Linked DNA regions of Homo sapiens: region 1 is linked to region 2. Evidence: fine-mapped expression QTL. Tissue or cell type: whole blood. Region 2 holds a variant in brackets; the other region holds the start of a gene. All regions are shown on one strand. Distances are between the middles of the regions.

Region 1 (8,105 bases), 23 kb before region 2:
TTCCTTCCTTCCTTCCTTCCTTCCTTCCCTTCCCTTCCCTTTCCTTCCTTCCTTCCTTCCTTCCTCCTCTCTCTCTCTCTGGATACTTGTCCTTGGACCCCAGCCACCATCCTGTGAGGAAGCCCAGAGCACATGAAGAGACCACCTGCACATGTTCAGATCCACTGCCCCAGCTAAGATCTCCGCTGACAGCCAGACCAATCACCAATCTTAGGAGCTGGCGAGCCTTCAGATGGTCCAACCTTTGAGGCCCCCCAGAGGAGCCAGGTGGAGCATAGATGAGCCATCCATGTGGATCCCTCCACCAAATGGAAGATTTAGGAGCAAAATAAACAATGTTGTCATTGCTTTCACCCACGAAATTGTTGAATAATTTGTTTTGCTGCTTAAGTAGCTGGAACACTGTGTTACCGAGGGAAGAGCAACAACCAACAGGAGAGAATAGTCAGTTAAGTAAGAGATTTTTGACCCTCTCCCTATCCGTCCACTTTGCTCAACACAACAGAGAAGCCACAGCTTCCAATAGGAAAATAGAGAGGGAAGGTGTCTCCAACAGTCAGATCACTCACTCCTGCCACCCCAGGGAGAGGGAAGGGGAGGAGGAAAAGCATAGATGAAAGTACCCTTCCCACAGCAGGTTCCCCAGCCACAGCCCTAGCCGACAGTAAAGAAAACTCAGGCTGGGCACGGTGGCTCACGCCTATAATCCCAACACTTTGGGAGGCCGAGGTGGGCGGATCGCTGGAGGTCAGGAGTTCGACACCAGCCTGGCCAACATGGCAAAATCCCATCTCTACTACAAATACAAAAACTAGTCAGGCAGGTGGCACACGCCTTTAATCCCAGCTACGTGGGAGGCTGAGGCAGGAGAATCGCTTGAACCTGGGAGGCGGAGGTTGCAGTGATCCCAGCCTCGGTGACAAAAGCAAAAACTCCGTCAAGAAGAAAGAAGAAGACTCAGTAAAATGGGACCTTTGGAATCAGATATAAGACTTGGGTTTGTTTTTTTTGTTTTGTTTTGTTTTTTTTAAGACAGAGTTTCGCTCTTATTGCCCAGGCTGGAGTGCAATGGTTCAATCTCGGCTCACCGCAACCTCTGCCTCCTGGGTTCAAGCGATTCTCCTACCTCAGCCTACTGAGTAGCTGGGATTACAGGCATGCACCACCATGCCCAGCTAATTTTGTATTTTTAGTAGAGGCGGGGTTTCTCCGTGTTGGTCAGGCTGGTCCCGAGCTCCTGACCTCAGGTGATCTGCCCGCCTTGGCAGCAGCACCCCATCTGGAGTGGCCACTGCCATGATGCTGGCTGCAGTGAGTGAGGCATAGCTGGGATCGCAGCACTCCACAGAGCTGGAGGGAGCTGGGAACACATGGAAGCCCCCACTCCTTCCAAGTTGGAGGGACAGGAGACCCTCCCTCCCAGGAGTAGCTGCAGCCACCCAGTCACAGCCGCAAACCCGGGCTCCCCTTCAGCATTGACTCCACCAGCTTTCACAACACAGAAGTCAAACTTAGGCAACCACAGTTTCTAGGGTGCCCTTCAGGAACTTTTATTTGTTCAGGGCAGCCAGCCAATTTTTAAGCACAATGTCTCTTTGTAATCATAAATCATTAGTTTCATGATTCTTTCAACACTTTCATCTTAGAGTCCTTTCAAAACTCTTGGGTGGATACCACCTGATCTTGTCAGCTGAGCTTGTTTGCTGACAGGTCTAGAACCCTGGGGTTACAAACGTTATTGCCTATATTCCCTCTGACTATCTGTGGGACCAGTAATCTCATTTCTTGGAATCCATCCTTAGGAAGTAATCAAAGATGTCGAGGCCAGGCGCGGTGGCTCACACTTGTAATCCCAGCACTTTGAGAGGCTGAGGTGGGTGGATCACTTGAGGCCAGGAGTTCGAGACCAGCATGGCCAACATGGTAAAACCCCATCTCTACTAAAAATACACAAATTAGCCAGGCATGGTGAGTGCACACCTGTAATCCTAGCTACTTGGGAGGCTGAGGCATGAGAATCACTTGAGCCCAGGAGGCGGAGGTTGCAGTGAGCTGAGATCACGCCATTGCACTCCAACATGGCAACTGAGGGAAACTCTCTCAAAAAAAAAGAAAGAAAAGAGGCCAGGTGCAGTGACTCACACCTGTAATCCTAGCACTTTGGGAGGCCGAGGCTGGTGGATCACTTCCTGCCTCTGCCACCCCTGAGACAGCAAGAGCAACCCTTCCTCTTCCTCCTCAGCTTACTCAGTGTGAAGACGATGAGTATGAAGACCTTGATGATGATCTATTTCCACTTACTGAATAGTAAATATATTTTCTCTTCCTTAAAAAACAGTGTTCACATGATATGAATGTAGCAGATACTTCCAGGATACCAGCCTCCTCTTCAATACAACTGCAACTATGGTTTTGAACAGTGTTTAAAATAATATCAATAAATATTTATTTGTATATGAAAACAGGAAAAAGGTAAACTAAAGCCATGGGGATTGTGTTAGGGTGGAGAGATTACCGGTAATTATTTTTCTCCATTTTGCAAATTTCCTTTAATGATACTGTTGTTGCTTCTTTTTTGGATACAGAGTCTAGCTCTGTCCCCAGGCTGGAGAGCAGTGGCACGATCTCGGCTCACTGCAGCCTCCGCCTCTGGAGTTCAAGCGATTCTCCTGCCTCAGCCTCCCAAGTAGCTGGGACTATAGGCGTGTGCCACCACGCCCAGCTAATTTTTGTATTTTTAGTAGAGACGGGGTTTCACCATATGGGCCAGGATGATCTCAATCTCTTGACTTCGTGATCCACCCACCTTGGCCTCCCAAACTGCTGGGATTACAGGCATGAGCCACCGTGCCCGGCCCTTTTTTTCTTTTTTGAGATGGGATCTTGCTCTGTGGCCCAGACTGGGGTGCAATGGCACAATCATAGCTCACTGCAGCCTCAACCTCCTGGGCTCAATCTATCCTTCTACCTCAGCCTCCCAAGCAGCTGGGACCACTGGCACACACTACCCTGCACCCAGCTAATTTTAGTATTTTTTGTAGAGAGAGGGTCTCATTACGTTGCTTAGGCTGGTCTCCAACTCTTGGGCTCAAGAATCCTCCCGTCCCAGCCTCCCGAAGTGCTAAGATTACAGGCTTGAGTCATCGTGTCTGGCCCTGTCATTGCTTTTTAGTTTTCAAACATTTTTTAAAAAGTAAATCTGGCCGGGCACGGTGGCTCACGCCTGTAATTCCAGCACTTTGGGAGGCTGAGGCGGGTGGATCACAAGGTCAGTAGATCGAGACCATCCTGGCCAATATGGTGAAACCCTGTTCTCTACCAAAAATACAAAAATTAACCAGGCATGGTGGTGTGCGCCTGTAGTCCCAGGTACTCAGGAGGCTAAGGCAGGAGAATCGCTTGAACCTGGGAGGTGGAGGTTGCAGTGAGCCAAGATGGTGCCACTGCACTGCAGGCTGGGTGACAGAGCGAGACTCCATCTAAAAAAAAAAAGTAAATCTCTCCAAGCAGTAAGAGTCATGCAACCAAGCTACTGAGTTTCTCCCATGAACTTGTCTCGGAACATAGTGGAAAGTCACAACCATTAAAGCCTGTAGTCCCCCCCACCCTTGCACAACGTGGCCCCCTCTTATGCGTGCCTTACCCTGCAAGGCAAAGATGAAGGCTGTAACTGTGGTAGGTTGTGAAAGCACTTTGAAGGTAAAAGTGTCTGTTGTTACTCTGAAAACTCCTTTTAAACGGCTATAATAGCATATGCCACATGAGCAAAGCACAGAACCTTATAACTATGCTTGCTTGTGGAAAGACATCCCTTGTCCACGGGCCAAGTATTTGAAAATACCACTCCATATAGCTCCAGGGCCCTGAGAGAAGCTACCGTGGCAGCTTTGGGAAACCAGCCACCCTTGGCTTCACTTTGATCTTCCTCAGTCTACATCCTTGTTTCAGTTCCTTTGCCACAGACATACAATTACCAAGTACTATATTGCTTGATAATAACTATAATTACTACAAGGACTGCCTGAGATGAAAAAGACAGGTGAAATCGAACTTTCACATGGACTGGTGTCTGAGCTGGAGAGTCTGTTTGAGTTTGAGTAGGGGAAAGCCTGAAACCCCCCACCACCTGCTCCCGTTAGTCCCTGCATTAACTAGGGGCGGACTGGGACCTGATCCTCCAAGCTGGAGGCTTGAAAACTCAAGGGCAGGCGCCTGGTCCAGCGATTCGGAAACCGAGATGCAAAGTCCTCCCGCGCTCCTAGAGAGGACCCGGAAGCGCGGCGCGGTCCCGGAAGACGAGGTGGTGACACGCTTCCGGCCTTTGTGACTCATTGTGTCTGTGTCGAGGCGTCGGGAGGGCCTAAGTCCGTGTGCGGTGCCCTTCGGCCGGCCTGAGCCCCAGAGTCAGCTCCCCTTTCTCGCCCAGCGCCCCCAGGCCGCTCCCGGGGCTCACGGTGAGACTTGGGGCCGGCCTCTGGGGTGGGAGGGCGGGGCCGCAAGGGTGTGTGCGCGAGGGTGGGCTCCGCAGCTGCGGCCCTGGGACCCCCTCCAGGCGGCCCCGCTGTTGTGCGAAGAGAGTCCATGCCCCTGCCTCCTGGCCGGGCCCGGCCGTAGAAAGCGCCGTTCTTCCTGGGAGACGTCCCCGCCCCACCCCCAGGATCAGGCGGGGAGGGGGCGAGGGTTTCAGTGGCTGAGGGTGCCCGGAGACCCGGGGAGAAGCCGTCTGTGGGCCCCTCTCCCGCAGTGTCGTCATCGCCCTTTGACGTTTCTGCAAACGGGGTCGCGAGCGAACCGACCCCGGTCTTGATTTTTCTGCTCTCCCTTAGTCGCCATTTGCTTTGATTCCGGTGAGGTGTCTTTTTCCCCCCCCGGTTCCTTCGGGACCTCGAGGTGAAATGAGCGGAAGGATGAGAGATGGACACATTTTGAGGTGCCGCATACGTTTCCAGACCTGCCTTTCCTTCTCCCACCCTCATCACTGAGCGGTGATTAAAGAGTATTTGAAGCCTAGTCATAGTGGATAAATAGGTGATTGGGATCTAGTAGAGATTATATACACCCCACTCTTTCAGCTTGATGGAATGCTTTGAAGGCTTTGGAAAAGAGCTGTCCGGGACGTTAGGTGGATTTTTCAATTCTGGATAGTTGCTCTGTTTGACATGGAGTGGGGTGAGAAGTGAAGGGAATTTGTGGAAATTGCACTGTGTCACTAGGAGACTGATTAGCTGAGTGACCTTGGATAAGACGAGACACTCACCAAGTCTTAATTTCGTCATCAATAAAAACTAACTGGATTTTCTCAAAAGGCCCTTCCGACTTCGAAATGATTTGGTCAATGTAATTGAAGAATTAACTACAGTTTAGCTTGACACTCCTCCATCCCTCCCCTCCCTTTCCTGCAGTGCCCCCTGTACACAGTAAGATACTTTCATTATAGAGAGTGGCTGTTCCATGGCCTGGGACCAAAGAAAGCATTTATTGTACGGGCCAGTGCTAGGCGGATTGGAGGCGGTCAATAAATACTTGTTGAATTGAATTGTGGAGAATTCATTGTAACCACATCAGCAAAGCACTGTTAGTATATATGCTGAACAAATGTGGAGAAATCGCTGTTTTACATAGGAAACCATGGTGATTTGCCCCAGAATGTGTATCCAGGTTTGTATCTTCTCTGAATTAACATATAAGATTCTTGTTTATTATTTCAGGCAGTTTTCACCACTCTTAAAATACAAACGAGGAAGCTAGCTACTTAGTCTTTTGCTCATTCTCGATTTAAAAGCATTTAAAATACAGATGAATAGCATATTAAATCTAACATTTTCATTCTGTGGGAGTATCAATATTCTTTGAATAGCTAGCTGTCTTTTAAGGTAGCTTTTTCATATTAAAACATTTGATTGCTCTTTAAAAAAATGAGTGTAAAGGGCAAAGGGCAATTTATTTAAAAAAAAATTTTTTTTTTTTTGAGACAGAGTCTTGCTCTGTCGCCCAGGCTGGAGTGCAGTGGTGCGATCTCGGCTTACTGCAACCTCTGCCTCCCGAGTTCAAGCGATCCTCCTGCCTCCGCCTCCCGAATAGCTGGGACTACAGGCATGTGTCCCAAGGCTTGGCTGATTTTTGTATTTTTAGTAGAGACAGAGTTTCGCCATGTTGGCCAGGCTGGTCTCGAACGCCTGATCTCAGGCAGTCCGCCAACCTCAGCCTCCCAAAGTGCTGGGATTACGGGCGTGAGCCACTGTGTGCCCAGCCTTTGTTTACATTTTCAAGACTATGCCCTGGAAAAATACTGGGCTGTTTGGAACACAGCCTTTGAGCTTGTAACTTCAAGCCGTTGTTTAAGAAAATCATTTCTGTTTATCCTAGGTGAGAACTGAGGTATCCTTAGCTGCTGGAGGTAATTTTATTTAAAGTGGATGGTATGTCAGTATGTTTTTCAGCCCATATTCACCCAGAGGTAGTTTCCTACTATCTGGAACCCCCACCCTACCCCCATTTGACTGATAAAGATACAAAATGCCAGAGAAGTTAAATACCTCTCTCAGGGATGTGCCACTTACTTGTGGGAGACTAGAATTCAGTTATTGCCTGTGCAGCTTTCACTATTACAGGAGTTGTCCCATTGCTTAATCTTCTAAGCAGGCTGAAAATTGGAATGTACAGTTACATCTTTTAAGCTTATTGAAAAAAATTAAGACATTTCTGTAGTGCCTACTAAATGCCAGGCACTATTTTAAGTGCTTTATATCTATTACCTCATTTAATCCTCACGGCAACTCTATGGGACAAATGCTGATTTTTATTCCCATTATACAGATGAGGAAACTGACGCATAGAGAGGTTAACTTGTTGACTTGCCTAAGGCCGTCAACTAGTAAGGGGTGGAGCAGCTTTAATGCTAACCTGAAACTCATCCAACTAGTCCATGGAACAAATTTGAGTGCAACATTGAATGTAGAATGATCGGGCTTTTAAAAAATAGTAACGTTGTCAATTCAGTCAAGTGTATTTTTGAAACTGAGGCTTGCAAGGAATCATGCTAAGTGGTCTAAGGAGTACAAAGAGGACTGCTCTTAATAATCTAGTTGAGGAAGAAGGCAAGAAAAATTACAGAGAAAGAAACATCATGAGAAATTTTTTTTTTTTTTTTGAGACAGAGTCTCGCTCTGTCACCCAGGCTGGAGTGCAGTGGCGCAATCGCAGCCTCCCGGGTTCACGCCATTCTCCTGCCTCAGCCTCCCAAGTAGCTGGGACTACAGGCGCCCGCCACCACACCCAGCTAATTTTTTATATTTTTAGTAGAGACGGGGTTTCATCGTGTTACCAGGATGGTCTCGATCTCCTCACCTCGTGATCCGCCCACCTCAGCCTCCCAAAGTGCTAGGATTACAGGCATGAGCCACTGCGCCCGGCGCATCATGAGAAATTACCTAGCAAATGTTTGGTGAAGAGTATTAGGGCCTTTAGAGACAGAAGAGTATGTGCTCAGATCATCTGGGAAACCTCAAATAAAACCCAGCCTTTCCACTGCTGTGATGGCTTTTCCCTGCACCCCAGAGTAGGAGCAGAGAGATACTGAAGGTGAGGAGGAGGATCTGTCCCAGTTGTGGGCAGAGGGAATGTGCCCATGTCTGTGTCTATTTCCCCCTGGACTCATTTCCTCCTTAGAGTCGCATCTTCGCACTGACCCAAGAAGTGTCCTGCTCAATAGCTAAGGCAGGATAAAACTTTCACAAAAGTAGGGATTTCTGGTGGCTGGGCTCGCTATCACACTAGTTCTGCTCAGTTACCATGTTTGAAGATCCCACCTGGTTATGTTGTAGACAGTCCCCACTTGAATCTTCTGCTGTGTCTCCTCCCTTTCCCAGGAAGGGCTTCAGTCACATAGTGACCCTCCAGTGAAAACTGGGTGGTAGATAAGGCCCGTTCCTGAGTGATTTTTTTTTCTCTTTGAGAAGGAGTCTCTCTCTGTCACCCAGGCTGGAGTGCAGTGGCGCGTTCTCAGCTCACTGCACCCTCCACCTCCCAGGTTCAAGTGATTCTCCTGCCTCAGCCTCCCGAGTAGCTGAGATTACAGGTATGTGCCACACATCCAGCTAATTTTT
Region 2 (8,105 bases):
TTTCAGAGATGTGTGCTCCTGGAGGGAAAAAGAAATACAGCCTCAACAGATTAAAAAACAAAAGTCACACTTAAGGATCCTTCTAGTCACATCAGCAGTGTTCTGCCTTTATGTAGTAGTTGGGCATATAATCCTTCCACACAGCCCCTGCAGGGAAAGGCTAATCTTACGGATAATCCACGTGAGATTTCCACACAAGAGAAAAGCACACGCATAGTGAAATGTCAGTCTTTTCAGTAATGAGGATACCTTTAAGGCACTCTTGGACTCTCGGCAACCACAACATAATAGTTGAAAGATCAAGATTGGCTCCACGAAAGTGATACGGAGGTTAGGATGCTACTTGCTGCAAACAAGCCCTACTTTGGCCAACATCCTGCTTATTTCTCAAAAAAGAGGGACAGTGAAAACAAAAACGACATTGGGACATGCTGCTCAAGGTAGTTATATATACGATAAGTTGTATATATGATCACTGGTAGCCTACCAAAGCTGTAGAAATCTAGGACTGTGCTAATCAGTATCAAACCAAAGATTTCTATCTCTTCCCGAAAGAGAGGGTATGTGCACCAGTCTACAGTTCCAAAGGACTGCAACAAATGTAGATGGTTCTGTCCTCATCCCTGAGATCAGTTCTACTGAAATGGCAACAACAACTCCAAATACATCTCTCCCTTCTTGAAATCCCTAAAGCACTATCGCACTCCTAAATGCATTTCTCCACAAGTTAGCACTTGATTGTATACTGTCTTTTAATCCTTCATTGTTTCATGTATGAAGTTTTTAATCACCCCCTAACCCCCAAAAAAGATTCGGTTGTCAAGGGATATATTTCTATCCCTGCCAGCACAGTGCTGGACATAGTGAGTACTGAACACCTAAGAGGCACTCATTCAGACTGACTTCTACAGGACTTCTACGTGTGTGATAAAAGCCTGTGAATCGTGAGTCCCTGAAATATGGTAGCCTGGCCCAGCTTCTAAAGAGGACCTTCGTAGCCACAAGGCATGCTAAACCTCTAGGGTCTGATGCTGTTTTTGTTCCAAATATAAACGAAAGGCACTAGTCAGCCGCCTGCATAGACTTTCTAAACAGTGAGTAAATACCATGGAATGTCAGAAATGACTTTATCATCGTCATCTTGAAGAAAAATATGAACACTGATGAAGGTCATTTTTTTTTTTTGACATCTTTCTGTGGCAAAGCTCTTAGAATTCTTTGCAGTTAGCTGCTGAACAGTATGATGATTTGGGGATTTTCTGAATCATTTGTACTTAGATACTGGAGTTCAGAAGATGTGATTTTTGTTGCTTTTCAGAAAAAGGAACGTGGTAGGGAGTGTTTTTTCCCACGCTTTTCCAGTAACTTTGCAAAAGCATTAATTGTTCACTGGCAATTACTAAATGTATTTTGTTGCTCTGAGAAACTCAGCAGTGTACTGAGATGTGGCTGGCTGTGCCATCGTCATAGTGCACAGTGACTTTTCTGTTTCTTATCACTAAAGACTGAGGTGAGGTTATGAAACTTTCATTGGTCCCATCGTTGTGCGCAGGGTGCAACTGGCTACCTAGAAGCTGATGGCAGGAGACTGTTTCACACACAGGAGATTGTGAGCTGTGTAAGTAGTCATCGCCACTCAAGTAGGACAAGGGTCCTACCCAAGGCTAGGACCGCCCTGCGGAAACAGAAACATAGACTGAGAACAAACCTCAAGACTATCAGTGTGACCTCCCCATAACAAGAGAACCCCATATATAGTTTGAGACTTTCCCTTGAGAAACTTATACTAAAACTATTACTCATCAGTCATTCACTGATCAGCAGCTAAAGTCCATGAGACCAAATGGTTTTATATGGAACCAACGAAGTGGGAGCTAAAACTGCACAGTGGTCATTCTTTGGCCTCTCCTTGGCTTTATGACTTAAACCAACTACAACTTCCCTATAGCTTCTAAGCAGTTTCATCAGCATTACTTGGGAAAACGTGTTGCAAGTCAACCAGTCACTAGGATATTTCTACCCATGCAACGGAAGAAAAACCCATTACTCCAGAAGAGTATATCTAAGTAACTAAAATGGAGGCAGAAAATGTTTTAAGGATTTTCTTCAAAGAATAAGCCACAGCAATGGTTTTGTAGAAAACTCCTGTGCTTTTGAGCAAGGACTTTTGCCCTCTAGAAAGCAACTGAGGCCAGGTGCGGTGGCTCACGCCTGTAATCCCAGCACTTTGGGAGGCCGAGGTGAGCGGATCACCTGAGGTCAGGAGTTTTGAGACCAGCCTGGCCAACATGGTAAAATCCCGTCTCTACTAAAATTATAAAAATTAGCCGGGCATGATGGTGGGCACCTGTAATCCCAGCTACTTGGGAGGCTGAGGCAGGAGAATCACTTGAACCCAGGAGGCAGAGGTTGCAGTGAGCCAAGATTGCACACTGCACTCCAGCCTGGGTGACTAGCAAAACTCCATCTCAAAAAAAAAAAAAAGAAAGAAAGAAACTGAAAAGTGAGGTGTGGAACTCCAGGCAACGACCCAAGCACTTATTTTTTAAGAGGGAAAGGACTTTGGTCATGTTTACATTGGCCTTTGGTTTTTTTTTTTCTTTCAGCCACAACTATATGCTGATATAACTCAGCCATCACTTTTGAGTTTTGTTTTTAAATGAAGGTTAAATGTGACCTGTGCCCTCACATTTAATTCCGTTTCATGGAGACATCTTCCTGACTTTGTTGGATAGCTGCCACTAGGGTTGCTTCGATCTTCAGCCACATGCTGTCCTTGAAGCAGCTATTTGAAGATGTGTTTTCTGAGGAAAACAGGCTACAACTGTTTATTAAAACCACTTGCAGTGCATTCGTTTATCAGATGCTCAGTGCAAAGTGTAATTGGGTCATGGTCAAAAACGCTTGCAACATCTAATTGGCGTTCAAGATAGTCATTCAAAAGTTCTTGGCCCGCTGAAGTCTGTTAACAGTTGAAACATTCTACAGTTAACCATTAGCATGCTAGTTGTCCTAATGGAAATTTTTGAAGAGTTTTTCAATATATACCCTACCCTTGCCAGGAAGAGAAGTAAAATCCTCAGGTTGTGGGGTATTTGTTTCTACTCCAGCCTGGCAGGCAAGGCTAAAACCTGAGATTATCGATCTATGAGACATCTTGATATGTAAAGCACTTAATATTAAAGGCATAAAAGTGAAACTGCTAAATATGTATAGAGAGGTTGACGTGTGATACGTGGGACAGTTCACATAGACATCAGAGAATTTATTCCAGAAAGGAGCCTCCTGAATGTGATGAATACGGCAAAGCCTTTAATCACATCTCAGCCCTTAGCATCGGAAAGCTTATACTGTAAATAAACTTGATGAATATTATATGTGAGGAAAACTTTCATGTATAGCACTCATTGCTTCAGACAGAAAATGAATTCCGTCGGTATGTTCCAATCGTGATGAATTTGAGAAACATTGCAAGAGGGAGCTCAATCTTGGCCGGGCGCCGTGGCTCACGCCTGTAATCGCAGCACTTTGGGAGGCCGAGGCAGGCGGATCACGAGGTCAGTAGTTCGAGACCAGCCTGGCCAACATGGTGAAACCTTGTCTCTACTAAAAATACAAAAAAAAATTAGCTGGGCACAGTGGCGCACGCCTGTAGTCCCAGCTACTCGGGAGGCTGAGGCAGGAGAATGGCTTGAACCTGCGAGGCGGAGGTTGCAGTGAGCTAAGATCATGCCACTGGCACTCCAGCCTTGAGTGACAGAGCGAGGCTCTGTATCAAAAAAAAAAGTTGCGGGGGGGTGCTCAATCTTAACTGCAGAGGATCTACAGATGAAAAAAAATGTGGGGAAATGCTTTAAAAAAATAGCAAAATGTGCAACTTCTTACAAAAATTGTTAACGTTAGGTACTTCTATATATTTTATATGACCATAATGTCCGTGTGTGTTTTGTACCTTCAGTCCCTTGTTATTGTTCCGTATATTACCTGTAAGCAGATACTGTATTTTATTTTAGCCTATTTGACAGAACACATCACTCAGAAAAAGTGAAGTTTCAGAGCAAACAGTGAAGAAATCAGTGTGATTGTAGACAAAAAGTCGGTTCACAGAACGGAGCAGCGGGGAGAGGAAGGGAAAAGCTTCATAGTTTGGTGCTTATCACATCAAGAGATTGGTAAATTTCTGAGGAAAGACAGGCTAATGGGGCACTGAAATGGAACAACTCCTTTAAACGTGCAGCCTTTTGAATTTTTCCTCAAAACCAAGAAGTTGACCTCTGAGCTGTCAGGTGACCACTGTGTGCAAAGGGGATGGATTCTCTTGTCAGTAGACGGTCTTCTCCATGAAGCGAGAGTAGGAAGTGTACTGGAATGGCCAAGTGGGACTGCTTCAGCTGACCAGGTTCTTTTAAACCGTAGTCATGCTTTCCCACTAACTCTTAAATCCTTATGCTTAGAAAATTGAGGATAAGGCTGGGCACAGTGGCTCAGGCCTGTAATCCCAGCACTTTGGGAGACCAAGGCGGGTGGATCACAAGGTCAGGAGATCGAGACCATCCTGGCTAACATGGCGAAACCCCGTCTCTACTAAAAATACAAAAAAATAGCTGGGCGTGGTGGCGGGCGCCTGTAGTCCCAGCTACTCAGGAGGCTGAGGCAGGAGGATCACTTGAACATGGGAGGCGGAGGTTGCAGTGAGCCAAGATGGCGCCACTGCACTCCAGCCTGGGTGATGGCGTGAGACTCCATGTCAAAAAAAAAAAAAAGGTTGGGGGGAGGATAGGACTGGCCAGGCACGGTGGCTCACTCCTGTAATCTCAGCACTTTGGGAGGCAGAGGTGGGCGGATCACTTGAGGTCAGGAGTTTGAGACCAGCCTGGCCAACGTGGTGAAAGCCTGTCTCTACTAAAAATACAAAAATTAGCCGGGCGTGGTGGTGGGCGCCTGTAGTCCCAGCTACTCAGGAGGCTGAGGCAGGAGAATCACCTAAATCTGGGAGGCAGAGGTTGCAGTGAGCCGAGATTGCACCACTGCACTCCAGCCTGGGTAACAGAGACTCTGTCTCAAAAAAA[GAAAAA/G]AAAAAAAGAAAGAAAGAAAGAAAATTGGGGATAGGAGAACAGCAAGGTGGGCATTTCCCGGAATTGTGTGCAGATGCATCCAGTCGTGGCATTGCAAGAAGTCTGTCTGATGAAGCTCGGGAAGCATTTTGCAATATTCCCTTTGGCTGTGTTCCTGTGTTCCCTGCTCCCACTTTTCTTCCCCTGGTTTGTGATTATTAGGAGAGAGGTTTTGCAAAGACTCGTTGCTGTGAAAGAATCTTTTTTTAATTTTTATCCTAGAGTCAGTCACTTTTATTCCAGGTAGTCATGCTGATCTGCTTATCCAAAGCCAGCTAACCAGGTTCATCCTACCATCCTCATGGAAGACTGTGTGTATGAATTGGAGTAACAGAACTGAAATACACTTAAACAGTGACAGCAGTACTTCCCAGGGTGGGGGCCATATTTCTCTGTGTCCTACTCTGAGCAACTTCTCAGAGATACGAGGGGGCTAGGGTTTTCCCATCTGGGAAATGGGGTGAAAGTCTGCAGATTGTTAAATGAAATATAGAATCAGAGAAAAAGAAAAGTCAGTGATATAAATAGATCATTTCATAGAAATTAGGGTAGATTTTTATTTCAACTACTACTGGAGAATTTAATAAAAGGCATTATTTGAAAAGTTTTTCTAACATAGATTTAGGGTTTTTTTTTTTAGAGTGGACACACTACATTTAAAAGCAATTATTTTGCTATTCAGATTTTTTATTATCTGAAAATGAAATTATCTGTTTTACTTTTCAAAGCTTTGTGAAACAAACTTGAAGTTATAGGGAGGTAAGCCATCTCCAACTCTGCAGGTCAAACGAAAGTTTGGGAAATACTTTTGACATCCCACAATACAGAATGTCTTAACATGAGAATTGAATTTCATGATGTGTGGTTCCATTTAATAGCGGACACCACCCCAATCTCATGTTTTCCTGTTACCCTAAAACAGTGGAAGGAAACTGGGTGTTTGGTAGACTTCTAAATCATGGTCTCTGACAATTTGAATCTGAGATTCTCACCTCCATTTACTAAAGAATCGTGACTTAATTCAAATTGCACAGTAATCAGTAAAGTGAATACGTTTTTAAAATGGAATTTTCTCCCTTCAGCAAGCACTCATTAAGGAGTGAGGCTGAGTATTTTAAGATAGAGTGAGATCTGTGAGTGATTGAAAGGTGATATTTAAAAACTTGGATTTCATTCCAGTGTCAGGTTTGGGTTTTAAGTTCCTTTGGTCCAGGGAAGGGTCCAAGCAGCCACAGTTGCCCTAAATCTCCATCATTAAGTCTTCCAGCAAGGTTAAGTGCAGTATGGAAGGAGAAGGGGGAAGAGGACGGTAACGGCCCCACACTCCAGGCTGAGAAAGAGTAATTAGGAGGCCTGAGGAGGGGCCGAGGAAAGGCTGTTGGGGTGTGCTGGGGTTGGTACCCGAGCGCCTTCCCCTCACCTCAACCAGAGAAGAGCATCCGGTTGCTTTTTAAAGCTTTTAGCCTGCCCTAGCAAGGACAAAGCATGTTAGATTAGAGATGCTTCTGCTGATCGCAGGGGTTCTTATTTGAAAACATCTATGATGGGGGTGGGGTGGGAGGAGACAGGTTGTGGTTATGCAGGAAAATCTTGTCCTAAAAATATATGAGTTTGGGGGTAAGGGGTGGGATAGCCAAGCAAAATCAGTAATTATTTTAAAATGAACATATGTATTTTTATTAACTTTTAGTTAAATACAGATTTTACAACGAGGTCAGCATAAGCCTAAATCTATATAGAGGGCTAACTCAGGCATTGTCTTGTTTATTTGTAGACTGGATTAAAAACAACCTGTCCTGTTTTGTCAGTTCCCAGCTTCTTCGTTTAGAATAAATTAGACCAAAAGAAGAAACGTGCTTGTCTCTGTATACCCGCAGAATGAAGTTACTGTTGTTAAAACTGGATTTTTTCATTTTACTAGGTTCCGAAGAGTCCAGATGCTTGGTAGATGTTCAATACGTGATTTTTTTTTTAATTGAATGTGTTCATTTAAAATCCTCCTTAACATTTCTAGAAAGACTTCTTTCAATAAATAATGGAATCTTAGAGGAAAAGTGGTTTTTTAAAAGCTAGGGAACTCCTCCACTAAAAGTAACCATTGGAAACCTCGAATGAGGGCTAAAGTTTTAATCATAAGAGAAAAGGCAGCATAATGAAATGTGTACACATACATAGTCAGTGGTCCATTTTAGGAAGCCAGTGGCGTCTGATAAAGAAATGTTAAGAGTAGTGAGGTTGAGGAAGGAAATTGTGGGGATTTGAAATATTCTCTTTATGTTGTTTCTCTTCTGAGTCATGGTAAAACAATAAATTATCATCTCTAGGTGGCAGTGCTTGTGCTGGTTTGTTTTTTGTTCTTTGTTTTTCTCATCCTTGGTTGCATAAATACACATTGGGGGTGAAGAAAAAAAAGTATTCCAAAGTTAAAAGACTGGAGCTGCAACCCACAAACAAAATTCTCATGCAAAACTATCTGTTTACTTTGCAAACCAAAATTAAATTTCAAAGGCCACCCAGTCACCTGAATGGACCTCTCCTCTCAGCCAAGGGCATTCCAAAGTTAACCTGAAAAACTAGTTCAGGCCATGATGGGAAGGGGGAGCCAAACATGCCTCATTATACCCTCTCCCCATATGGAATTACTGATAACAACAGACTCTTTAAGACTGATAGACATGGCCAGCCATGGTGGCTTATGCCTGTAATCCCTGCAGTTTGGGAGGCCGAGGCAGGCAGATCACCTGAGGCCAGGAGTTCGAAACCAGCCTGGCCAACATGGTGAAACCCCCTCTCTACTAAAAATACAAAAATTAACCAGGCGTGGTGGCGGGCGCCTGTAGTCCCAGCTACTCGGGAGGCTGAGCCAGGAGAATCACTTGAACCCAGGAGGGGGAGGTTGCAGTGAGCCGAGATCGCACCACTGCACTCCAGCTTGGGCAACAGAGTGAGACTTTGTCTCAAAAAAAAAAAAAAAAAAAAGGTGAACTGGGA

The links. PIP is the estimated chance that this variant, and not a neighbour inherited with it, causes the effect.
Region 1: ZKSCAN1 starts here. The variant in region 2 is fine-mapped to the expression of ZKSCAN1 in whole blood (INTERVAL, PIP 0.98).

Annotation. Positions count from the first base shown.
Region 1 is chr7:100,011,273-100,019,377 of GRCh38, forward strand. ZKSCAN1 (zinc finger with KRAB and SCAN domains 1) reads left to right here and starts at 4,324. Exons shown (of 6, transcript NM_003439.4): 1 at 4,324-4,454. LOC105375423 (a long non-coding RNA gene) reads left to right here. Exons shown (of 3, transcript NR_159960.1): 3 at 104-362. RefSeq lists a silencer at 4,410-4,579.
Region 2 is chr7:100,034,246-100,042,350 of GRCh38, forward strand. It overlaps ZKSCAN1 (zinc finger with KRAB and SCAN domains 1), which reads left to right. Exons shown (of 6, transcript NM_003439.4): 6 at 1-7,444. Among named protein-coding and RNA genes, the nearest start is that of ZSCAN21, 11 kb to the right of the region's middle. RefSeq lists enhancers at 3,085-3,586, 3,587-4,086. The variant GAAAAA/G (reference allele first, on the strand shown) is at 5,070.